2 separate regions of the Homo sapiens genome follow, and region 1 is linked to region 2. Evidence: fine-mapped expression QTL. A gene starts in region 2. The other region holds a variant in brackets. All regions are shown on one strand. Distances are between the middles of the regions.

Region 1 (15,109 bases), 36 kb after region 2:
GAAACTACATCTGTGAGTCACTGCTCAGGGGAAAACCCAGCTGCTCGGCTCAGCTCCAGCCCCAGTGGCCCCGGGGAAGGACCAGAAGGCAGAGCGAGAATAAAAGATAGGCTGCTTTGCTTTTCTCAGTTTCCATAGCAGGTTACCGTATTTGCAGTTCTTCATTTCATGAGGGAAGTTGAGAGTGGGACTGGAATCAAAAGAGGTACTCAGATGGTGAAGCCCATAGCTGTTGGGTGTGGAGGTTTTGGCTAAGCCACCAGGGATACTTCTCTGACCCTCTGGATCCTTACTTTGACTCATCGCCCTTTTTTTTTTTTTTTTTCTGATCCACAGGTGGCTACAGCCAGGTTCATAGTCTGGCACATGGCATTTTCTGGACAGTGAGAATCAGGAAATGGGGGTGAATCTTAGAGTGGGTCTGATGAATCGTGGGAAAATCTCTCAACATTGAGACAGAGATACTGGAAGGAGCTTGAGATTTGTTTTATAAGAAGAGGGATTCTTGGTGTCATGGCTGTCTTCTCAGAAGGGAAGATCGGTCAGGTGTGGGCCTGAAAACCATGGGTGTTAAAGGGCTGACCCTGGAACAGTCCCTGCAAGGATAGGGGTGGACCATCAGGACAATGATGGGAAAGTGCTGGTGTTTGGGATGTCACTTCCCACAAATTGACAATCACTGCAGAGGCCAAGAAGCCTCCCACTGGGTTTGGGGGGTCAGTATCTCTTCAATTAAACTAAGGCAAATTCTTAGCTGCCAAGGAGGCCAGGTGACTTTGGGTTCTAGTCTCAGATGAGTCCTAGTGGGCTAGAAGCCTGCTTTGCTCTGCTTGACACAGACCAGACATGATGGGTAGGACTTAGTTCCACAGTGGATGTGGGGAGTCCTGTGAGCTGGTGGGAGTGTGTCTGGAGCGTGCCTAGAATCATGGGGCCTGCATGGTAAAGGTCCTGCAACCAAGCCAAAATGGGGATGCTTATGGGGCTGGGGATGTTTAGCCTAGAAAAGGGCATAGGAGGCTAGTGTTTTTTGAATCCCTGTTGCTCTAGATGACAGAACTGAGGCCAATAGATGGAGATAATAGGAAGAAAAATTGTGACTCACCAGAGATAAAGCTAGCTGATATTTTAAGACAGTAAAGTCTAATGGTTAAGATCTTGGACTCTAGAGTAGAGTCACAATGGGCACCACCCTGAATCCTGCTCACAGATGTGGGTCTGCAACCCACTTGGTGTTGGCCTGCTCTGCCCTGGGATTTAAAAAACTTGCATCAGTCATCAGCACAAATTGGGAGATTATGCTTACAAATCTATATGGATAGCCTCTTTTTAAAAATCGGAGGATCTGATCACCCAAGTTCCTACTCTCTCATGTAACAATAAATGGTACGTGGGTGGCAGCTGCCTCTTCTGAATAAAGCAGATGCACTGTGGTTTTTCACAAGTGCTACTTCCTCCACCTTTCTTACATTTGCACAGTTTCGCTGATTCCCAGGTGTCTGCAGGTATTGTAGTTTGCAACCCTTTTCTAGTTAAGAACCCAGGGTTTGTAACCTGGCTTTGCCAATTTTAAGTTATTGTGACCTTAAAGAAAGGAGTCAATTTCTCTAAGCCACAGTTTCCTTATCTGAATATGAGAATAATAATAATACTTACCATGAGTTAAAGAACTCCTGGAAAATGGCTGGCAAGGAGGGAAGCACACCATGAGCGCTCACCAACTCTTAGCTGGTGAAATGCTGTCCAACAGTGGAGGAGGTAGCCTTGGGAGCTCTATCACCAATGCTGGGCCTGCAGAGGGGCTGCATGACCTGGTGGTAGCCAGGACTACAGAGGAGGGACAGCCACCAAGAACTCTGAAATAAGTGGGCCATGCAGCAGTACTCCTTGGGCCCTTCCCAATGACCAAGTCAAAGGTGTTGGTGTAGAGCTTCTCTTGATGCTCATTAAAATCAAATTTGAGGCCAGGTGTGGTAGCTCATGTCTGTAATCCCAGTGCTTTGGGAGACCAAGGCAGGCAGATTGCTTGAGCCCAGGAGTTTGAGACCAGCTTGTGCAACATGGCAAAACCCTGTCTCCACAAAAAAACAAACAAACAAACAAAAAAAAACCCCAAAAAAACAACAACCAAAAAAACCCCAAATTAGCCAGGCATGGTGGTCCATGCCTGTATTCCCAGCTTCTTGGGAGGCTGAGGTGGGAGGATTACCTGAGCCCAGGGAGGTCGAGACTGCAGTGAACCGTGATGGCACTTCTGCACTCCAGTGTGGGCAACACACTGTCTCAAAAATAAGTAAAATATTTTGTGTCTCAAAAATAAGTAAAATAAAATAAAAATAAAATAAAATTAGATTTGATCTGGAAAGAAATTTTGTAGAAAAGAATGTGTCACCTGGAGTAACCTACATCCAGAGTAACCTACATCCACTTGGGAGGCTGCAGTGTGCTCAGAGTGAGTTGGAGTTCCAGCCCTAGCTGATGGTGGGTGGGAGCATTCCCCTGCCCCTTCCTGCTCTGCTGCAGGGCTCCTTGGAGCTCACTGGCAGCATGTCCTCCCTTGGTAGCTGGATAGGCCCTTCAGTAGGCTCTGCAGGCTGAGCAGCCATGGGAGACAGCTAAACCCATACCCATACTTTGGCTCTGTGACAGAGTGGTCCAGCACTTCAGGACCTGCCTGGGTCCTGGGTCTGCCCCTGGGTGGGGCCTGGGTGGTATGGGTTCCCTTCGGGTGGTCTGGACTCAGCCTGATGAGACAGCCTTTGGTGGCTGGTTTCCATTGGCCCCTGAGAAGCCCTCTGCTGGAGCGGCATGGAGTGACTGAGAGAGTCAGTTCTGTGTCTTGAACTGTCATGTATTTTCTGGTTCTGGAAGCAGAATCTGCTTTATGTGCTTGAGATGCTGAGCCAAGGGCAGACACATCCTTATTCTCAGAGAGCCACTACAGGAGGGGAAGCAGGGGTCTACTGGCCGTGAGCACAGCAGTACATGCCGCATGTCTGCCAGACAGGCTGGGAAAAAGCTTGGGGGAGAGGGAGGGCTCACCAGGCCTGGAGGCTGCAGGAAGCCAGCCTCCTGGCCTCTGAGGATGGTGCTATGACACCAGTGCTGAGGACTGGTGGGTGCAGTGGGGTGAGTTGAATGAGCTGGGAATTCATGCTCTGAATCTATTTCCCCTGCTGCTTCTCCACTCCTCTATTCTCCCTCCCCTCTCCTCTTCGGCATTCACTGTAGCCTTGATACTTAAAATATCATCACAGCCAGTGAGCAGCTGTCAATGACCGGTCCCCTTACCTCAGCACTAGGTGGTGCTTGTATCTCCCTTCTGGCTGGCTGAGGAAGCTGGGCAGCAGGAGGCAGATGCTGGTTCAGAGCCCCTCTTCTTGCAGAATCATTAGGCAAAGCTCCCAGCAGCCTGACTTATGCAGATGTCAGAGCTCAG[G/T]CTTTGGTTCTTGTGCTTGAGCTAATTGGCATCTTTGGAGAAGCTTTTCAGCCTCTGGCCTGTGGGCACCTGTCCCTGAGGGGTGGCCCATCATTCAGCCTTGGTCTTTGCATTAGGCCTGTATAGCTACCGAGTTTTCACCCCAAGCCATGTCTGATGGCCTTTGGCTGGAATCTGGGATGGTAGAAAGCTGTTGAGACAGTTGAGTCTAAATTAAATATTAGATCTGGGTGGGTTTCACATATTTCATAGCATAACTTTGTTGGGATATTTATTTGCTCTTCTCCTGGTTCTCGCAATTTAATAATTGAGTAAAATCCGTTTTGACATTCAGCACTGATTTGCTTACATTCTGCTGAAGTGCACCTGCTCTGTGAGAGAGTGGGTGTGTGTCAGGAGGCTGGGAGAAGTGGGGGCAGACAACAGAAGCTTCAAATGAGAGACATGGCTTGGGCACTGACTTTATATGTGAAAATGTGATTCAGCCTTAAACTTGTGGGTCGCTTGCTAGATGACAAGCGCTAGATCAGACTCCAGTGGGAGAGTAAAATCATGGAAGATACCGTCTTCTTCCAGGAAGCTTGTGTTGGGGAAATAACGTCAAACACAACAACACCAGCTAAAGAGCAGAGTGCAAAGACAGGTGGCTCTCCCCTAATTCCACTGCACATACACTCACAATCAGATACACATATGTACACATTAGGTCAAACCTGTGAAGACCAAACCAGGCTCTGGGTTTTGGGATTGGGGTCATCAAGACCTACAAGTAAAATCTCCTCTTTTCAAATCTGCATTTCCTTATAGCAAAATGGTGGGAGCATAGGCCCTGGAGCCAGGGGCCTGCCTGAGAATCTGGTTCCCTCCATACTAGCTGTTTATGCTTAGACATGCCACTTAACCTGTCTGTGCTTCAGTTTCCTCATCTGTAAAATGGGAATTTCAGTGTCTATTTCACAAGTTTGCTGAGAGGTTTAAAGAAGTTAAAACATGTATGCGCTTCAAACAGTGTCTGGCACATGGGCAGTGCTCAGTAGCTATGACTATTGTTCCAAAGATCTGACCACTTTTCACTGCTTGCAGAGGTAAACGGTAGATGTTCAGACCATAAGGGAAAAACAGAGGCCCATTTTTAAGATGAGAAAGTGGGACAAGTAATAGAATATCTGCCTGGTTTCAGGAGAGGAGAGGGTCCTGGAAACTTGGTTCTTCTTACACAGCTGCTGAGCCCCAACTGAATTCAATTCATCAAAAGTATAATGAGGATCTGCTGTGCACAAGGTATGTAAGTGTGGTGGGGAAACAGGTGCTTCAAGTATGGAGCCCATCCTCTACCTCAGGAGGTGGAACAGACAGATAAAAACAAGGAGTAGAACATGATAAATATCACAAATACTCAGGAAGACCCTAAGTTGTAAGAAGAGAGGAAAGTCCTTTTGAGTGTTGGAGAAGAAGATATCAGGGACAGCATACATCAGAACAGAAAGGCAGAAAAGCTTGGCATATATTTGAGAACAGGACAGAGTCTATTTTGGTTGGAGGAAGCTTGGGTGAGAAAGGGTGTTGGGCTATCACTGGAAAGTGTGGGATGCAAAGGCAGGGTGAGTTGGCACTTCATCAACAGATAATGGAAGGCCACTGAAGGCTTTCTGAACAGGAGTAGAATCTTTTTATATTTTAAAACTAGTAGACTACAGTAAGTGAGGAAGATGGAGGGATGAAAGACGACAACTTTTGTTCATTTGTTTGTTTGTTTTGCCTGGGTGACTATCTGCATGATGGTATCTGCTAGAGATAGGGAAGTCAGAAGAAAGGGCCAAATCACTGGAGAAAGAAAATGCTTTACTTGGACAGTCTGGATGGGAAGTTCCAGTGAGTCATCCTGGTGGCAATGACTGGCAGATTGTTGGAAATGGAGGAGCTAAAGCGAGAGAGGCTAAGAATAGAGATATGGATTTGGGAGTTAGTGGCAAATAGAGTTAAACTATGGGAATGTATATGATGGCCTGAGAAGAAATTATAGGAGAAGTAAGAAGGACTAAGGGCTGAGCCTGGGAGACAGGACATGGAGGGGAAAGGCAGCTGAGAGGAGCCTTGAAGAAGACTGAAGAGGAATAATTGCTACTGAGGAGAAGCAAGGCAGTTCAGTGTGATGGATGCCAAAAGATGGAGAAGTCAAGGAGGTAAGACCCAAGGAAAGGCTACTTTTGGGCTGCTGGTGACCTGGAAGAGCCATCTGCATAGAGTTCTGGGATGGGCAGAGTGAGAGAGCATGGTAGAGCAAAGGGTTGTGGGAAGACCTGAGAGGCTTTGTAGAATTAAGGGAAGAGATGAGATACCAAGCGCATTCAGTCCTGCCTATCTTCCTAATGCATGAATTAAGATCAGAAAAGAGAACTAGAGAAAGAGGCTAGATGGCTGCGAGAAGCCAGAATATTAAGAAGTTGGTCCAGGTGAGGTGGCTCACGCCTGTAATCCCAGCACTTTGGGAAGCCGAGGCGGGCAGATCACAAACTCACGAGTTGGAGACCAGCCTGGCTAACATGGTGAAACTCTGTCTCTACTAAAAATACAAAAATTAGCTGGACGTGGTGGCGGGCTCCTGTAATCCCAGCTACTCGTGAGGCTGAGGCAGGAGAATCATTTGAACCTGGGAGGTGGAGGTTGGAGTGTGCCAAGATGGTGCCATTGCATTCCAGCCTGGGTGACAGGGCGAGATACTGTCTCAAAAAAAAAAAAAAAAAAAAAAAGAAAGAAAGAAAAAAGAAAAAAAGAAATTGGTATTAGTAGCAGAAATGCGGAGTGTGAGAGGGTGTATATAAATGGATCAGTAAGAAAACAAAGATTGAGACTGTTTATAAAATAGAATTGCCTGATTATGAACCAAATATGAGTCAGTTAAAATATGTCAATATAAAACATTTATTCTTAAGGAAAACAATTTAGACAATATCAAATATATTTAAAATGTTGGGTAGGCAATGGTTATGAAGGAGGAGAAGCACGCACTTCTCCAACTGCACCATCACTAGCCACACGACTTCCTGTGAGTTATGACCCCTCTGCTTCACATTCTCATCGTATAATGGGGATAGTAACACTTTTCAAGGTTTTTGCATTGTTGTAAGGACTGAGTGAGCTATTGAGGAATCTGAATGCAAAGGAGTTATTATCCCAGTGCCTTGTGCATTGTGAGTAGGTGCTGAGTAAGTATTAACTATCATCACTATTAGCTTTTCTCGGCTGTCGGTAGTGCAGTCTTGGAGGGAACAGTTTGGCATTCTGGGCCCTGAGATTTAGCTGGATGGATGCTCAAATACTTGCATTGAGTGGATAAATGCAACTGAAGTAGAAGTGAAAGATCGTGTGTGACTAAACAAAAGAGAAAAGGGAAGAGAAAGGAGAGGTTTAGTGCATTTGTGAGTGTGTGTGTGTGTGTGTGTGTGTGTGTGTGTGTGTGTAGGGAGGGAAGATGGTAATAATGCTAGGAGAAAGGCAGCATTTCATGACTGGCAGAAATGGGTTCCATGGTACCACTGCATGGTCGACTTAAATACAGGAAACCCTGCAACTTGTGGTTTCACAATTCTCAGTTGTGAACATTGGTGCTCTTTATGAAACCCTTCAGTCAAAACTGCAAATATACAGTCCAGAACCACAGATTTCTTTAATTTTGACTTTGTAGCTAAGTCATCCTAATCAGGGACTCTCTATCCTACCCACACCCAAACTCAGTAAACACAAAGAATACTGAGAATATCAGACCAAAATATTTGGTGTACAGTTCGGATTCATGTTCTGTCTTCTCCAAGTCTCAATTTTCTTCTCTGTGATGATCGCCTAATGTCTACCTTTTTGAATGTCTATGGAGATGTATTTAAGTACTTGGTAACCTGGAATGTGCTAAATAGAGGTTATCTTTTTTTTTTTTGAGATGGAGTCTCGCTCTGTCACCCAGGCTGGAGTGCAATGGCACTATGTTGGCTCACTGCAACCTCTGCCTCCCGGGTTCAAGTGATTCTCCTGCCTCAGCCTCCCAAGTAGCTGGGATTATAGGCACCCACCATCATGCCTGGCTAATTTTTGTATTTTTGTAGAGATGGAATTTCACCATGACCAAGCTGGTCTTAAACTCCTGACCTCAGGTGATTCACTTGCCTTGGCCTCCCAAAGTGCTGGGATTACAGGTGTGAGCCATGGTGCCCGGCCAGAGGTTATCTTTTTATACTAGTTTTCTTTAATATTTTATTTTGGATTTGTTCTATGTGAATTCACCTGAAGGTGATTTGAACCTGTTTACATTGTAATCTGTAACACATTTTGGGCAATAAACTTCATATGCTGACTACTTAGCTCCTTTCATTCATTTTAAATTTACTTCCCAAGTGTTCAGCTTCAGGGAATGCTCTTCAGGAACAACGTCCCTGGATCTGGTGATCAAGTGGATCACCAGAACCTCACCCAGAACCTCACCCAGAACCTTTGATCTCATTTTTCATTTTCTCCCAGTCTGAGGAGGCCCTGACTCTGCCCAGTGAAGCTGCTCTCTCTCTGGCAATGCCCATCCCATCAGCCATGATGTGAGCGTTCTTGAGCTCTGCCCTGTGCATGAGGTTTGTCCAGCTGGGGGAGGGAACTAGAGTCAACACTGTTTCCCAGATGTAGGCAATATGGTTGCTGCTCTGGCACGGTAATCTGTAGGTTCTATGGGACATTTTTAAATCCCAGCCTGCTTTCTCTTTAACTAGCTTCTCTTCCTATCCCTTTAAAGCTTTAAAAATTACCCCAAATGTCTGCGAGTAGCCTCCACACAATCCAATATATTTGATGCATTACAAAGTCCTTAAACATGACTCCTGGATGATCTTTTCTTTATCTACCCTCCATTAACAGAAATGACATAGAACTGCTTATGTGTATTTACATGGATCTCTCTCACCTCCTCCCTCACCTCCCACCCCACCTCACCCCCCACCCCCAAATACTGAAGTGTTAATGGGGATAGTGCATTGTTTAAGCTGTCACAATGTGTGATCAAGACAGACTGAAAGTCCTCTAAACCTTCAATAGTAATTCCATTCTCCAGGAGAGATGGAAAATTCTTGCATGCAGGAGATATTAGTTGCTCTGTTTCAGTCTGAATTGTGCACAGAGTTTCCTGGGCTACTGTAAGGTGGAGTAATCCCAGATTGCCGGGGCTGTTCCATGCATCCCATGGGATAATGTGTAATGATCAGTAACCTGTAAAGTGCTGAATTAAGGTTATCCTTTTATCCTAGTTTCCTTTAATAATATATTTTGAATTTGTAGCATGTGAATTAATCTAATGTCTTGTAAATGGGTGGATTTCTGGTGTGTCCTGATCTTTCTCGATCTGCCTGGAGTCAATCAACATTCAGGAGTGAGGAGTGGGATGAAGAATGGAGATTCTAGAACCAATATCTAAAAATATGTATGGAGGTGGGGGCAGGGAGGGAGTTCTTGGGAGGCTACCAGGAGGATTCTTGCTTCCATATTCATTTATCCATAAATCATTTGTTGGGGGCTGTGTTGTTTGGTGGCCTCTGTGGCTGAGCCATGAGGTAAAGCTGATGACAAAGATTTCACTCTGCCAGTCTTCTTGCTCTCTGAAGAAAGGCATCCCCTCTTCCCTTGGGAGGCCCACCCTCTGCCTCTTAGCTCAGCACTCAGTTTGAGACTAGGCTGTCTGAGCTGTCTCATTCCGTTTGTGATCATGTGCCATTCCGACTTCCTCTATTTCCTCTTCTTTATTTACTATTCTGTAGTCTTCCCCACGCTTTCAAAACTGAAGGAATGGTCGAGTTGCCATGGCAACCCTCTGCCCCCACCTCTTTTTCCTTTCTCAACAATTTTTCTACATTTTAATAAAATTACTATTTATAGTGCACAAAGCTGCATTCCCCTCCACTGCAGCTCTGCAAGGGAGGTTTTCTGTCTGACCAGAATACTAATAACTAAAACATGGCTTTCCAGTGAGGAAGTGAGGAAGCCCTCCAGAGCAATCACTTTGGGAGACATATGTGTTCTTTAGGATATTGTTTAAGATGTATGAAGGGCTTGGCCTGCATATATGAAGAACCTCAGTTGACAGGGCTGAAACCCCATCCTTGTAAAATATACCATATAAATGTTGAATATGGCATTCCGGGCACTTTGGGAGGCTGAGGCGGGTGGATCACTTGAGGTCAGGAGTCCAAGACCAGCCTGGGCAACATGGTGAAACCCCATCTCTACTAAAAATACAAAAAAATTTAGCTGGGCGCAGTGGCGTGTCCCTGTAATCCCAGCTACTTGGGAGGCTGAGGCAGGAGAATTGCTTGAGCCTGGGAGGCGGAGAGTACAGTGAGTTGAGATTGCTCCATTGCACTCCAGCCTGGGTGATAGAGTAAGAGCCTGGGTGACAGAGCAAGATTCTGTCTCAAAAACAAAAACAAACATAGAACTGATCTTTTAGGGTTGTTTTAAGGATCCAATAAATTAATATAGACAAGGACTTAAAAGAGTGTCTGTCGTCATTTGTTATAGGCATTTGAATTATTATTTTAGTAGCTTATTAACATCCATGAAGACTATTCCAAATGTGAGGTTTTACCAAGGTTTTATAGCTGTTGAGGGATAGGCCCGGTGGAGGAGGTTAGGAGGGGTTATTTTGTATGGAATGAAACATTTAGACTACATTGAAGAGTAGAATGAAGGAGTAGCTTTTAAATTCTTAGTGTTCAATAATGAAAATATTCATTCTTTATCATGTTTTGGGACTTTCTAAAAACAAATTTTATATAGGAGCAAGGCAGATTATTTTAGCTTAATTTGAACTTACATTGTTTATTCATTCAAAGGGCTCACAGGTGGAAAATCTCTGAGTGAGGTTACACAGTAATGATCTGGTAGTAGTGCTACTTAAACTTTCATGTGCATATAAATCACCTGGGAAGTTTATTACACTTCAGATTCTAATTCAGTGAGTTGGGGGTGGAGCCTGAGATTCTACATTTCTATCAAGCTCTTAGATGCTGCTGCTGCTGCTGGTCCCTGAGGACCATTGAGTAGCAAGGTTTAAGGTTTTTGGGGCCAGCTCTTCCTAAAGACACTTTTTAAACAAAGGTGTGGGTTGAGTGGAAGGGGCTCTCCAATTTCTTAGTTATTACCCAATTGGAATTACCCAATACTAATAGAACTGGGCCCTCATGAGAGAATGAGGTTAAGAATCACCAGTGGAAGCCAGAAGACTTCTTTTTTCTGAGATTTTAACAAGAGAAGTCAGGAAAGGCTATATACTTTTTTTATTTTTATTTTTATTATTTTGGCCAGAAAGCTCAGAGGTGCCTGACTGCATTGTATTCAGGCTCTACTCTTGCTTTATAAGTCAAATGTGATTACTCACTTAATTTTGTTCTTGAAACATTTTTAGAACCCAGTAAAACTCATCATTTTCCTGAATGAGAGTTAAGGCTTTTTTTTTTGGGTGGTGATTTATTCAGAATATTTTGAAGACATGATTGTGGGACTAAGATCCAAGTGAAACTGAGCCAAAAGAAGACGTAATTATTAAAACATTAACTTGAAATTTTAACTCCTGTTTGAAAGCATTGCTTCCCTCTCTAAATGTCTGTCAATATCTTATTTAAGTCTTTTTTTTTAAACAAAGCAAAACAAAACCTTTGACATGTTTTTAAGAACTAACAATAATGGTGATATACAACAGCTGCAGTCTCACTTCCGAATGGAGGAATTAAAGGCTCATGTTAGAAGATGAGAGGTTTAGCTACTTTATAGGCTTAATCAGCCAGTGACTCACAATTACGAGTCATGTGATTTAAAAATCTCAGTGACTGTGAGCTTCTCTTTGGAGGACTGGGCAAACTGTGAAGAAATATGTGAAATTAGAGAAAGAAATGTGAAGTAGACTTCCTCTTTAAATTCTGGATTAGCCATGACTCAAAGAGCATGGTAGGACATCTGTATATGCTCATTTTATTAGAAAGGCCATCACAATTGGATTTAGACTTCTATTCGTGTAATCCATCTTCTTTTTGCAGGCAGGATTATCTCTAGGCTAGTACTGAAAAATTGTCACTTCTATTAGATTATTAAGCAAGGTCTGTATCATCTCTCAAAAAGACCCACAGATCAAGATATGTTGACATCAGTGGAGGGGGAATTGCCCTTTTAGTGGCACCTTCAGCCTTTGCAGATGCCAATTCAATCAACCAGTAACAACTCAGATGGGAGATGGGAGAGTGTGGCTAAGATGGACAAGAATACACTTTCAAAATGCAAAGCTTTTCTGCAGCATTAGGGGTCATGGAGATGTTAAAAGACTTTTCAAATAGCAACTACACAATAGGATTCCAGATTAAAGGCTCCTCAGTTGACAGATAACCAGTGGGAAAAGATGAAATGAGAATTATCTGAGAATTGCTATCATAACCTATCCTTAAAACAGAAGAGCTTTGTTCCTTTTAAGCTCATGGGAGCATGTTATAGTAGCAGCCTTATAATTTGTCACTGAATAAATCACCAACACCAAGTTACATTAATTATATCTTACTCTTTAGCTCCCTAAATTTCTCCTTAATAGACCTAAAGGAATTATGATGAATAAGGATTGAGACCATTTGCAACCTTTGGAGTTAGTGGTTTGCTTTCCAATAATTGACATTTTTATCTATTAATGCAGTTAGGAAAATTCATGTTTTCAGTTTTGGTAAGAATTTTGCCTAGAATTATCAGCAATGAAAATCTTACTCTAAGTTAGTCAATTGTTCTTGATGATTATAATGATCTAAAGTTTGATGCCCACAGCCTTGTGTATGTTAATTTCCAGTAGATTCCGTAAGAATGAGAGAATGTGTGTATGTTTTTGAACTGGAAGACATTCTGACCGGGATCTACAGAGATATAAATGGGCAAATCCAGTACAGTTTAAACACAGGAGTTCTTATCTGAGTGGAATACTTCAGAGGGTTGGAGATTGAAGTAGCCCTCTGATGAAGTCTGGAAACTACTGGAAATGTTTAAATACTGTGGTTTAAAATTACACTTGAGATAAAATCTGATTTCCTGTTTCTAAGTCAAAAAGCTTACAATAAGGACCTTGAAGTTTCCTGGAATAATAAACAACACTTCTAAAACGGCAACTGGATGAGGTAAGTGTGGTTGACTAGAAAGTACAGATTAATTTTCTCAACACTACTCATGTTTCAAAATTAAGAGGGAAAATTTCCAAGAGAGAGACATATTTGAGGTCATGTTGAACCCAAAATAGTTTTAAGTGCTGCAATAGTTTGAAACGTTTTTAAGGGTTTTCCACTGCTGAGACAATTAGCTAGTTTCCTCAGACTGCATTTGTTTTACCAATCTAGTGTTGAGAGCCTCTTAACAGTGGTATATCAATGTGCAACATTTCTTGCAACTTATAAAAGATAAGTAGACCGGCACCGGCTACAAGGAGCTAGAAACCCTTCCCCATCTCATTGGCCTCGCTTAGTCCTTCCTACTTAGTCATCAAGCCTAAATCCCTCTCTTATTTCCTGAAGGCCCCTGAGCTAAGTTAATTTTATCTTCCTTCTTTCTCATAGTTCCCTGAGCCTACCTGGTATAGAACTTGTCACTGTTCCATAATCATAGGTGTTCTCATTTCCCACTATTTCTATGAGATATTTGAGGATAGAAGTTACATCTTCTCAGTGTCTTATTTATTCAACAAATGTTTATTGAGCATCCGCTATATACCAAGCGCTGTGAATACAGAGATTACAAGGACACAGAGTCAGCTCTCAAGTTACTCACAGTTTTATAAAAGAAACAAAAGAGTAGATGGTTATATTTTGTGTCAAGTTCTTTGATGGAGGGCTCTTGATATAAAATATCAGATAGATACTTAACTGAAATCTTCCTGGAGAAAATGTAAGTCTTGGAAGATAAGTAGCTATCATCCAGCTGAGTAGAAGAACAATGTGGGTGAGTGAAGTGGGGAAGAAAAATAAAGTTGTGATGATATTTCTGGGCAGAGAGATCAGCAAATGTGAAGGTATATGGGGGGGCATACTGTATATAAGGGATTCACAGTAATTCAGGGTGACTGGAGCAGGGAGGACATACTGGAGAGTGATAATTGATGAAATTAGAAAGGTAGACAGAAGCTGGACCGTGAAGGTCCTTGGATGTCATACTAAAAGGTTTAGGCTTTATTCTAAAAGGATAAAGGAGGAGTCATTGAAGTACTTTAGCTGTGAGAGTTATTAGCATATTTGTGACTCAGAGATCACTTCGTCTGCAGTATGAAAAATTCACAAGACTACTCTAGTAACATAGGCAAGAAATCATAAGATACAAAAATAATTCAGAGGTGAAGAAGGCAGCTAAAGTTGCATCAAGAATTTAATAGCTGTGAAGAGTGAGGGAGAAGTTTGAGATTAGTTGGTCCCCAGATTTCCAAACAGTAGCATTAAGGAGAGGTGGTTTGATTACCAAAGACAAGAAATACAGTTGGGATGACATTGCTGAGTGTGGGAAATGAGTTGTTCTGTCTTGGACATGTTGGGTTTGAGGTATCATGAATAGTTTCGAGACCATCCAAAAGGATATTTATGGCAAAGAGATTGGTACACAAAAGATAAGTTGTCTGTGTGGGTCAGAAGACTCCATCAAGCTGGCTAATGCAATCATGGCTTGTTGGAGGGTTTAGAAGAATCTCATAGAACCCAGTGACAGGGAGTAGAGTTGGGCCTCCCATGTGTTGGAAAACAGTCTGTAGCTACTTTTGATCTTTCACTGGGGCAGTGTGATTGTTTTGCTTTGTGTTTCATTCTTCTCCTTGCTTCTCTGCTAGGCTTAGTTACTACTTCACCAGAATATAAATTACATGGACTTAGGATTGTTATGATGCTGACTTTGGCTCAACTTGCTAAAACATCATAGCTCTTCGCCTAATTGTTTCTACTTCTAACTCCCCAAGTTTCAATCAAAATTCCAAGGAGAGAGAATCACCTGGCCCAGTTGAGTTAGGTGACCACCTGTGGACAGAGAATGGGCTGACATGGGTTTTAGGATTGTCCCTTCTAGATTATGGGTTGGCAGGTTCAAAGGTAAACAGGGCAGAAATGATTGGCTGAGAAGGTGACTGGTACCTGAAATATGGTAAGACTAGCACTCAGGTTGTAGCTCTGGGCTGGAGATAAAAATCTGTGGAAGTAGTTAAAACTAGGATATTGGATGAGATTACCTAGGGAAAGTGTTGACTCAGAAAAAGTGAGGCTTGAGATCAGAATCTTGGGGAGCAGCAGTATTTAAAAAGTGATAAGAGAAAGAAAAGTCAGTGAAGGTGACTGAGAGAAAATGTCACAAAAGCCAAGAAGGAGGGAGGGATCAACAGTGTCAAATTCTACAGAGTTGGTGAGGTTGACAATTGATGTATGAGAAAGAAACTAGTATTAAGGAAATGTTCAGTGTAGAAGTGGAGACCAAAGCCAGATTACAGAGGAATAACACTGTAGCCGAAAGTCAAATAAATGAGGGGTCAGGAAGTAGAGACAACTTCTTATTAAGAAGTTTGGCTTTGAGTGGAAGGGGGCAAATAGAGCTAACAATGGTCAAGGAAACATATTCACCGATCATAGATTCTGAGGTGGGGACACACTGAGGATA
Region 2 (8,000 bases):
TACTCGATATATATTTATATACACTGGATCCACAGACCTGCCTGTCATCAGGACCAGATGCCCTGGTCCACTGTACAGTCATGCCCGCGACTAGGTTAATTCCTAAGGTGCAGTCATGTGAGGTGTTCAGATGCTGCCTTCCCCGCTTACTCTTCTGGCTTTGCAGAGGTCTGCGTTCCTGTTTAGAAGAACAGGGATAGGTAGGCTGGGGGGCCAGAAGTTTTAGTTCCATTCCAAATAGTCTATTTTTTTTCCCCTGATGGAGGGATTTTTGCCTTCTGATGGGAAAAAAACCCCTAGTTCAAGACCATTCCAAGCCTATTAATACTCTAAATATTAACACTGTGTAGGCTACTAGGAAAATAGGTTATCTCCTGTGTTTTAAATATTGAGATTCATGCAACAAACACCCATGCAGCTCTATTGCATCACTGGTAAATTTCACTGCAGTGTCAGTGTAGCTGGGCCACATCAGTGGGAAAGCAGATGTCTGCAAACTCCAGTAAGAAACCAGACATGTTTTTGTGACCCTGGAGCCTGCAAAAATGGTGAAATCAGAGGCTTAGAGGTCTGTTGGTTTGTTAGCTTCTCCCCATAGGCCTAAGGGAACAAATGTGAAACTTGACAACTCATATTCGGTCATACTAACTGTCCCTCCCCCGGGCTTCCCTCACATCGACACTGCAGAGAAAAAGCAGAATGCAGCATTTTCCGTTATGAAACACAAGCCTCCAGAGCATCTACTTGGCAACTGCAATTCACAAACTCCAGCCTGTGACACAGAAAGTAATTCCAACACACAGGACTGTGTGTTCTTTTCAATGCAAAAATGAGTATGACCTTTTGAACAAACACCAGCTATTTAAAGCTAAGCCATGATTGTGTTCCTCTGTGAAAGGGCAGGTGGGCTCAAATAAGGTGGTGGGATGGTGGGGAGGGGAGTGCATCTCTTGGATGTTGTGTGCATTTCATTAGGAAGGAATGATGGCACTGATATGGTGCACTGTGTATGGGATATGAGGTGGCCTCAACGTGTCTATCTGAAATCCTAGCTTGATAGGTGACTCCCGTCTTTGGAAGTTCATAAGCCGGTGATGAGGATGTGCATGAAAGCCATGATAGATATTCTGTGTTCTAAATCAAAAGTCAAAAGATCAAAAGTCACTTGCACAACTATTGCTTTCCATGCAGAACCAGATACACACTGTAGAACACACTGACTACAATGCAGGCTATTATGCAACATCTGCATTAGTTCCATTGAGCTGTGAGTACGGTAATAGGTTTCAATCAGACATCAGTTAACATTTTGGTAATATTCACATAGTTTGTGTTAGCCAAGGTACAGTTGGCTGTTTTCAAGTTTTCCTCTCTAAAGTCCTCATTACTGTTATTTACACCCTCCTGGATCTCCATGTAATCAGACTTACTAATGGTAGAGGCACTTCTACTTTTCTTTAGGTCAGGGGAGGATGGGATCTTTGGACAGCTTGTCACTTGCAAGTATTGGGCCTGTTCCTCTCCCTCTGTCTCCCGGTGGTAGAAGTAGTTGAAATTGGACACAATGACAGGGACCGGTAAGGCAATAGTTAACACACCTGCAATCGCACATAGGGAACCCACTATCTTTCCCCCAATGGTAGTCGGAACCATGTCTCCATAGCCTACAGTTGTCATGGAGACGACTGCCCACCAGAAGGCATCTGGGATGCTGGGGAACTGGGACTCTCGCTCATCGGCCTCTGCAAAATACACAGCACTAGAGAAAAGGATGACCCCTATGAAGAGAAAGAATATCAGGAGGCCCAATTCTCTCATGCTGGCTTTGAGGGTCTGACCTAGAATCTGGAGACCTTTGGAGTGTCTGGACAACTTGAAAATCCTAAAGACTCTTACCAACCGGATGACACGGAGGATGGCCAGTGACATGGCCTGCTGGCCTTGCTGAGCGTCCTCTGGCTTCTCAGCCAACTCTGTCCCCAGGGTGATGAAGTAGGGGATGATGGCCACAATGTCAATGATGTTCATGATGTTGGTGAAGAAGCCGGCTTTGCTGGGACAGGCAAAGAACCTCACCAAGAATTCAAAGGAGAACCAGATGATGCAGAGTGTCTCTACAATGAAGAAAGGGTCTGTGAAGGAAGTGGACTGCTGGTACCCGATGGTGCTGTTGGAATAGGTGTGGAAGGTCACCCCACTACCATGCATGTCTTCATTCTCATCCCGGAAGATGGGCAATGTTTCCAGACAGAAGCTGACAATTGAGATCAGAATCACCATGACAGACACAATAGCTATAATCCTGGCAGGCCCTGAGCTCTCTGGGTATTCAAAGAGAAGCCACACTTGTCTCTGAAACTCATTTTCAGGCAGAGGACGCTCTTCCTCCTTGATGTAGCCTTCATCTTCCCGAAACATCTCCATCGCTTCTTCTCCCAGCTCATAAAACCGAATTTCTTCAGAGAATATATCTAAGGGCACATTCACAGGTCGCCTCAATCGGCCCCCTGACTGGTAGTAGTACAAAATGGCATCAAAGCTAGGGCGGTTCCGATCGAAAAAGTACTCATTTCGGAGGGGGTCAAAGTACCTCATTCGTTTCTTTGGGTCCCCTAAGAGGGTCTCTGGAAACTGGGCTAAGGTCTTTAGCTGGGTCTCAAACCGCAGCCCTGAGATGTTGATCACCACCCTCTCACAGCACTCGTGGTCTGCCTCTGGGTCATAGGTGTCCTGTGGGTGCCCAGGGAGGGCAGCAGCCTCGTCTGCTGGGTCTCCGGTGGCCACTGTCATAATTGGGACTGAGAGAAGCACCTCACGCTATGCCTTTCAGCTGCCTGGTGGCAGGGAGCTCAGGGTGCTGCTACTGGCCCCAGGAAGCACAGGAGCATTGGCCTGGTCTCCTGCAGGAGAGCCCCGAGAGCTCTCTGAGAGCTGGAGAGACAGCCTCGCTTGGCTGAAAGACAGAGGCAGTTATTGACATGAGGCTACTCAGCATTGGCAGCCTGACCTGGGTTGCCACTTTTTGTCTCCCATCTCTCAGCCAAGAGTTCAGACACATGATCACCACCACCACAACGACAAAGCAAAATTTACTTTCACCTTGTAACTTGTCTGGGGATCAGGGGGAGCAGGTAGCAATCTCTCCAGGAACCTCTGGAATGCCCTGCATTGGGGGAAGGTGGCTGGTACAGGCCCGCTTGTAGCACACAGGCTTCATGGAGCATAACCCCATGCTAATAGGTTAAAAGTGGACCCTCTCCCAGGTGCTGCACTAATGTCTCAGATACTCATACCCAGGGAGGTATTCATGGTTGGGGAGCTTGGGCCTGGGTCTTTCTCATTGGCCTCCACCCCAGTGATTCTACACAAGGCTGTTATTAAATGATAGATTGATTTACCTGACCAGAGACGTGAAGCTCTCTTCCTTGCAGAGCTGATCAGATGCTGCAGGAATCTGAGATGCACCAACAGGCAGCCCAACTCCTCATCACGTCTTCTCACTCGAGCTAGAAATAATGGTGAGTCATTCTGGGCAGAAGGGCAGACTCTGGGTCCTGGAGGTGAGCTCTAGGATTGGGCTGGGCTGGAGGGGCGGTGAGGTGCCTGGCCAGGGGCATGCGGGACTTGAAGACAGCCGAGCATGGGCCTGGAGCCTTTTGAAGGAAGGAGGCAAGATGCAAAGCTCAGCAAAAGCTGGAGTCCTGGCTGTCCTCAGGAGGTGTGACGTTGCCTGGAAAAAAACAGCAGCAAGGTGGAACCAGGGCATTTGAACCAGCTGGTGCCAAGATTTAGGAGGGTCTGGCAGCTTCCCTCATGGGAGGTAACAGGCCCCCATGCCCATCCTCTATTCTGATGCCAGGCCTGAGGACTATCCCTCAGCCTCCTTGCCTCTTCTGGGCAGGCTTCCCATCAGCTTGAAGCATTTTCTCCCAGGGAGCAAGACTCAGGCTTGGCTGGGCCTGCCTTCTCCAGGGGCCTCCCTGGGTTGATCCAGGTTGCTAGTCCCCAGCTGCTCTCAGGAAGGACTCTGGAAGAAGCACTCCTACCCCCACATGTCAGGACACAGCAGCTCCCAAGAGGAGGGCTTAGCTCACTGCAGCCTGTCTACAAGCTCTGACCTCAGCCAGTCCTGGAAAAGAAGCACCCCACCCCCCAGCACACACACTCCTTCAGAGCGCATCTAGGGAGACCCCACACAACAAAGTCTGCACTGTACGAAAACTGGATGAACTTACTCTCCCTCCGGGATCCCTGGGCCGCAGGCCTCCCTCTGAGCCGGGTGGCATTTGAGCTGGGCAGGCGCTCGACCACTGATTTCTCCCCCAAGAGAAAATCCCTCACATCTCCTCGGCAGGGAGCACAGAATAAACGCTCCGCCTGCCTAGCTGCGAGGCGGCTTGGCAGCAGCGAGAGGGGGAGCCTGGAGGAAGCCGGCTTCCGGACTGGCCCCCTGCCGACCCAATCCCGCCGGCCCCAGGGCGGGGAGGGGTCTGGGCCCTCTCCCCATCGCCCCGGGCTCCGGCCGGGATTCCGTTCGGCGCACTCAGCGCTCGCCTCCGCGCAGAGGACCAGACCCTCCCGCTGGCCGCGGCCGCTAGCGCCACCTTAACCCCCTCCTGCCCGCGCGGTCGGCTCCTGCTGCGGGCCCAAGCGCAGTTCAGCTCTTAAGCCCCCGGCGTCCAGCCGAGGGACCGCCGAGGCTCAGTGTCCAACCCAAAATCCCGGAACCTGATCTCTGGGGGTGGGGAGTAGCCTGCGCCAGGCTGCCGCCCCAGATCTCAGCTTCCTTTTAAGCGCGGGGGCTCGGCGGCAGCCCACGGCCCCAGCGAAGGGGAAAGCCCTCTCTGCAGCAAAGCCGTTTGTTATTCTGTGCCGAAGAGGCGAATGCAGCCCGGCCGTCCCAAGTGGTTCAGGTCCTACCAACCCGCGCTATTTACCAGACATGGTTATGCTGCCAGCTGCACTTCCCACCACCCACCAGCTCCTCTCCGTGCCCTCCGCCCCGCGCCACGCAAACCCCAGAGGGTCCCGAGCCCATTCTGTGCACTCTTCTTGAGCAGGGTGCAAGTTCCCCTTGATCTCCCCGGTCTGGGACCTGCCGAGCAGACGGCAGTGGTCGGCAAGGGCTTGCCGCCGCGGACTCAGCCCAAGCCTGCTGCGCTGCAGGCTGCGCCGCCGGGTGCCCCGCAGCCCCTCTGGGCGCCGCAGCCGGGCAGGGAAGGCAGCACGCGCCGCGCAACGCCCCGACACGGATTTACCCTTCCGGATGGGCACCGGGGCCTCCATGTTCCTAGGTTACGGCCAGCGCCGGCAGAACCCCGGCAGCGGGCGGCGGCGGGGTGCGGGCGGCCAGCCGGGAGCCGGCTCTGCAGTCCCGCGGGCGGCGCGTACGGAGCTCCCGGCCGCCGCCCGCAGCCGCACCGCGCCACGCAGCGCCGCACCTGGCTCGACGGCGAACTCGAATTAAAGGGGCCGGCGGGGGCCGGGGCCGGGGCCGGGGCGACAAGCTGCCCTCCGCCGCCACCGAGCTCGTCACCTCGTTGGGCCCCCGGGCCTCAGCCCCCGCCCCGCGAGGAAAACATTCTTTGGCAGAGCCCGACTTACTAACCAGAACCTCCAGGAGAGCTCAGCTGGGTGCTGCCGGGCCGGGGAGATGGGGGAGGGCAGAAGTTGAGGGGCACTGGTGAGAGGCTCCTGCCAACGTAATGAAGTAGGCAAGGAGGAGATAATCAATAGCAGCTACCCCAGGCCCACAGCGGGATCCAGCCCCGGGAGAGACGTGTTGCTATTATTGTGGTGCCTCCAGACAGGATCTGCAGACCCCTTTCTTGCCCTTTCTCCCGCCAGCGCGACCCCTTCTCCAGATCGGCTTCCCACCTCCCTGTTACCCAGCAAAGATTTGGCTTCGCAGGGAAATGCAGCAGGTGCGGTCCGCAGTGTGGCAGAAACTCTTCTGCTGTGTTCGCCCCCACCGAGAGGAGCCGCAGGAACAGGCAGCACTGCAGGGCTGGCCCTCTCCACTCCCCGACTCCCTCCCCCAGGGCCCGGGCAGGGAAGGCTGGGGGACACGCCGCTGCCCTTGGGAATGGTCAGCTACTCACAAAACGGGCCCTCTGGCAGAACTTGCAAAGCCAGGTGGCCCACAGGGCTCTGAACTTAGGAGTGCAGCTTACAGCACCCTAGGTGGGCAGACGAGGATGCCCTTTGCTTTCGGGAAATGTGTGTGGGAGGCACAGCCTACTTTCTGCCTAGATAGGGCATCCGAGAAGGTCCAGGGTGCTTTTGGGAGGCAGACGACAGCCTCAAGCCCCTGCTAGTTCTGTTCTCCAGGTCCCTGTCAGGGTCACCTAGACAGGTGTGCCAAACAGTGGTGGTTCCTTGAGATAAGACTGCGGTAGACACGGAGCTCTGGATTCAGATGGGCTCTAGCACCAGGAAGTCCCCACTGGGCCCTCCCCCCTACCCTCCGGCCGGGAAACCCTCCTCTCTATGCGTGTACCTCGTGGGGAGAGCCCTGAAAGCCCATGAAGCGGGACTCCGGATTCTGGCGTTTCATCGTGGTAGTCTGTGAGGTGTGGTTGAAGACTGGGAGCCTGCCTAGAGCTGCAGGGGGTGGTCTGGGAGGGCAGTGACCTCCGTGGGCCCAAAGGATGACAGATGACTATAGAGAAGGGCTGGTATGGTTTAGAGCACCTTGAACCTGGCCTGTTAGTGTCCCAGTCAGTGAACGGCTTGGGTGTTTTGGAGGCAGTCAGATGGAAACGTAACTCCCTAACAGTTACTAGATAAGTTATTTCACTTCTCTGGGCACCAGTGCCCTCCTCTGAAAAATCAGGATGCCCCTAAGGGTGTGGTGAGGTTTTAATTGTTGAATGAGTTTAGCATCCAGCAGACACTGAATGCATGATGATTTCGCTGCTCTGCTTCCTTGTGAAACTCTCCTCATAGCTCTTAGCTTCCAGCTTAGCTCTGGGGTGTTTCTCTAGGCTCCCAATCACCAGGTCCTTGTTGCCCCATTCCCTCTGCTTCCCAGATTGCCCCGCCCTTTACTTTCCTTGAGATCTCACCATTCCCACCCCTCTACCAAATTGACCTCCAGTTCCCTTCCCTATATACTCCTTCTGAAAGCCTCCCCTGACCAGCACCAAGGGGCTCTGTTTCTCCTATTTGGCACACTGGGTTCTCGTGTCATTTAAAGTCAGATAATCCTGTGTGGCCAAAGTCAGATACTCTATCCATCTGATCATATGTATACATTTCCTTTGCCTTCCTTCTTGAAAACAGAAGCTGTGGACAGAGAAAAGCCCTTGAAGGAAAATCAATCGTCATAATTGGTGACATGGGCTTACCATGTGTCAGACCCTGTGCTAAGCACTTCTTACCCAGGGCAACATTTAATTCTCACAGCCCTAGAAGTCAATGTATACATTAGTACCATTTCATTGGAAAGGAAATGGAGGCAGTGAGAGGTGAAATCACCTGCCTGAGGTTAATAAATGGTGACTCTAGGACTGGAATTAGGTCTTTGTGATTCTAGGACATGTGCCCTTAGCCCCCACACCACACTGTGCAGGTGGAATGAGCAGCTCTTGAATTTCATTTCCCTCTTTGAGATCTTCCTCTGACCTCTGCTTCTATTTTGTGACTTGGCCTCAGGGGTATGTTGTCCTGTCTCTATCCTTTAAACTTAAATGTGAACAATGACAAAAAAAGAAATTAACTAAAGAAGGGGGAAAAAAAAGAACCATCATAACAGTTGTTTAGGCACATTTCAGGGCTTCTGCCCTGAAAAGTGTCTGTCAGTACCTTGGTTTGGCAGTGCTGTATAGGAAAAGAACACAGGCCGTATTCCCGGCACTAACACTTGCTAGCTGTATGAACTTGAGCAAGTTACTGACACTCTCTGAGCCTCCTACTGTTCGTTTCCTAGTTGGTCGAATGGGAGAGCAAAGCTACTTTACAGGGTAGTAAGGACAAAATTAGCTATAAAGAATGGACAG

The links. PIP is the estimated chance that this variant, and not a neighbour inherited with it, causes the effect.
Region 1: its variant is the best candidate, but not a certain one, in a credible set for the expression of KCNA2 in whole blood (TOPMed, PIP 0.63).

The regions. Positions count from the first base shown.
Region 1 is chr1:110,634,904-110,650,012 of GRCh38, forward strand. No RefSeq gene overlaps it. Among named protein-coding and RNA genes, the nearest start is that of KCNA3, 32 kb to the right of the region's middle. RefSeq lists an enhancer at 1-19. The variant G/T (reference allele first, on the strand shown) is at 3,440.
Region 2 is chr1:110,601,993-110,609,992 of GRCh38, forward strand. KCNA2 (potassium voltage-gated channel subfamily A member 2) reads right to left here and starts at 4,366. Exons shown (of 3, transcript NM_004974.4): 1 at 4,236-4,366; 2 at 3,399-3,730; 3 at 1-2,953. The coding sequence starts at 2,790. The coding sequence ends at 1,291.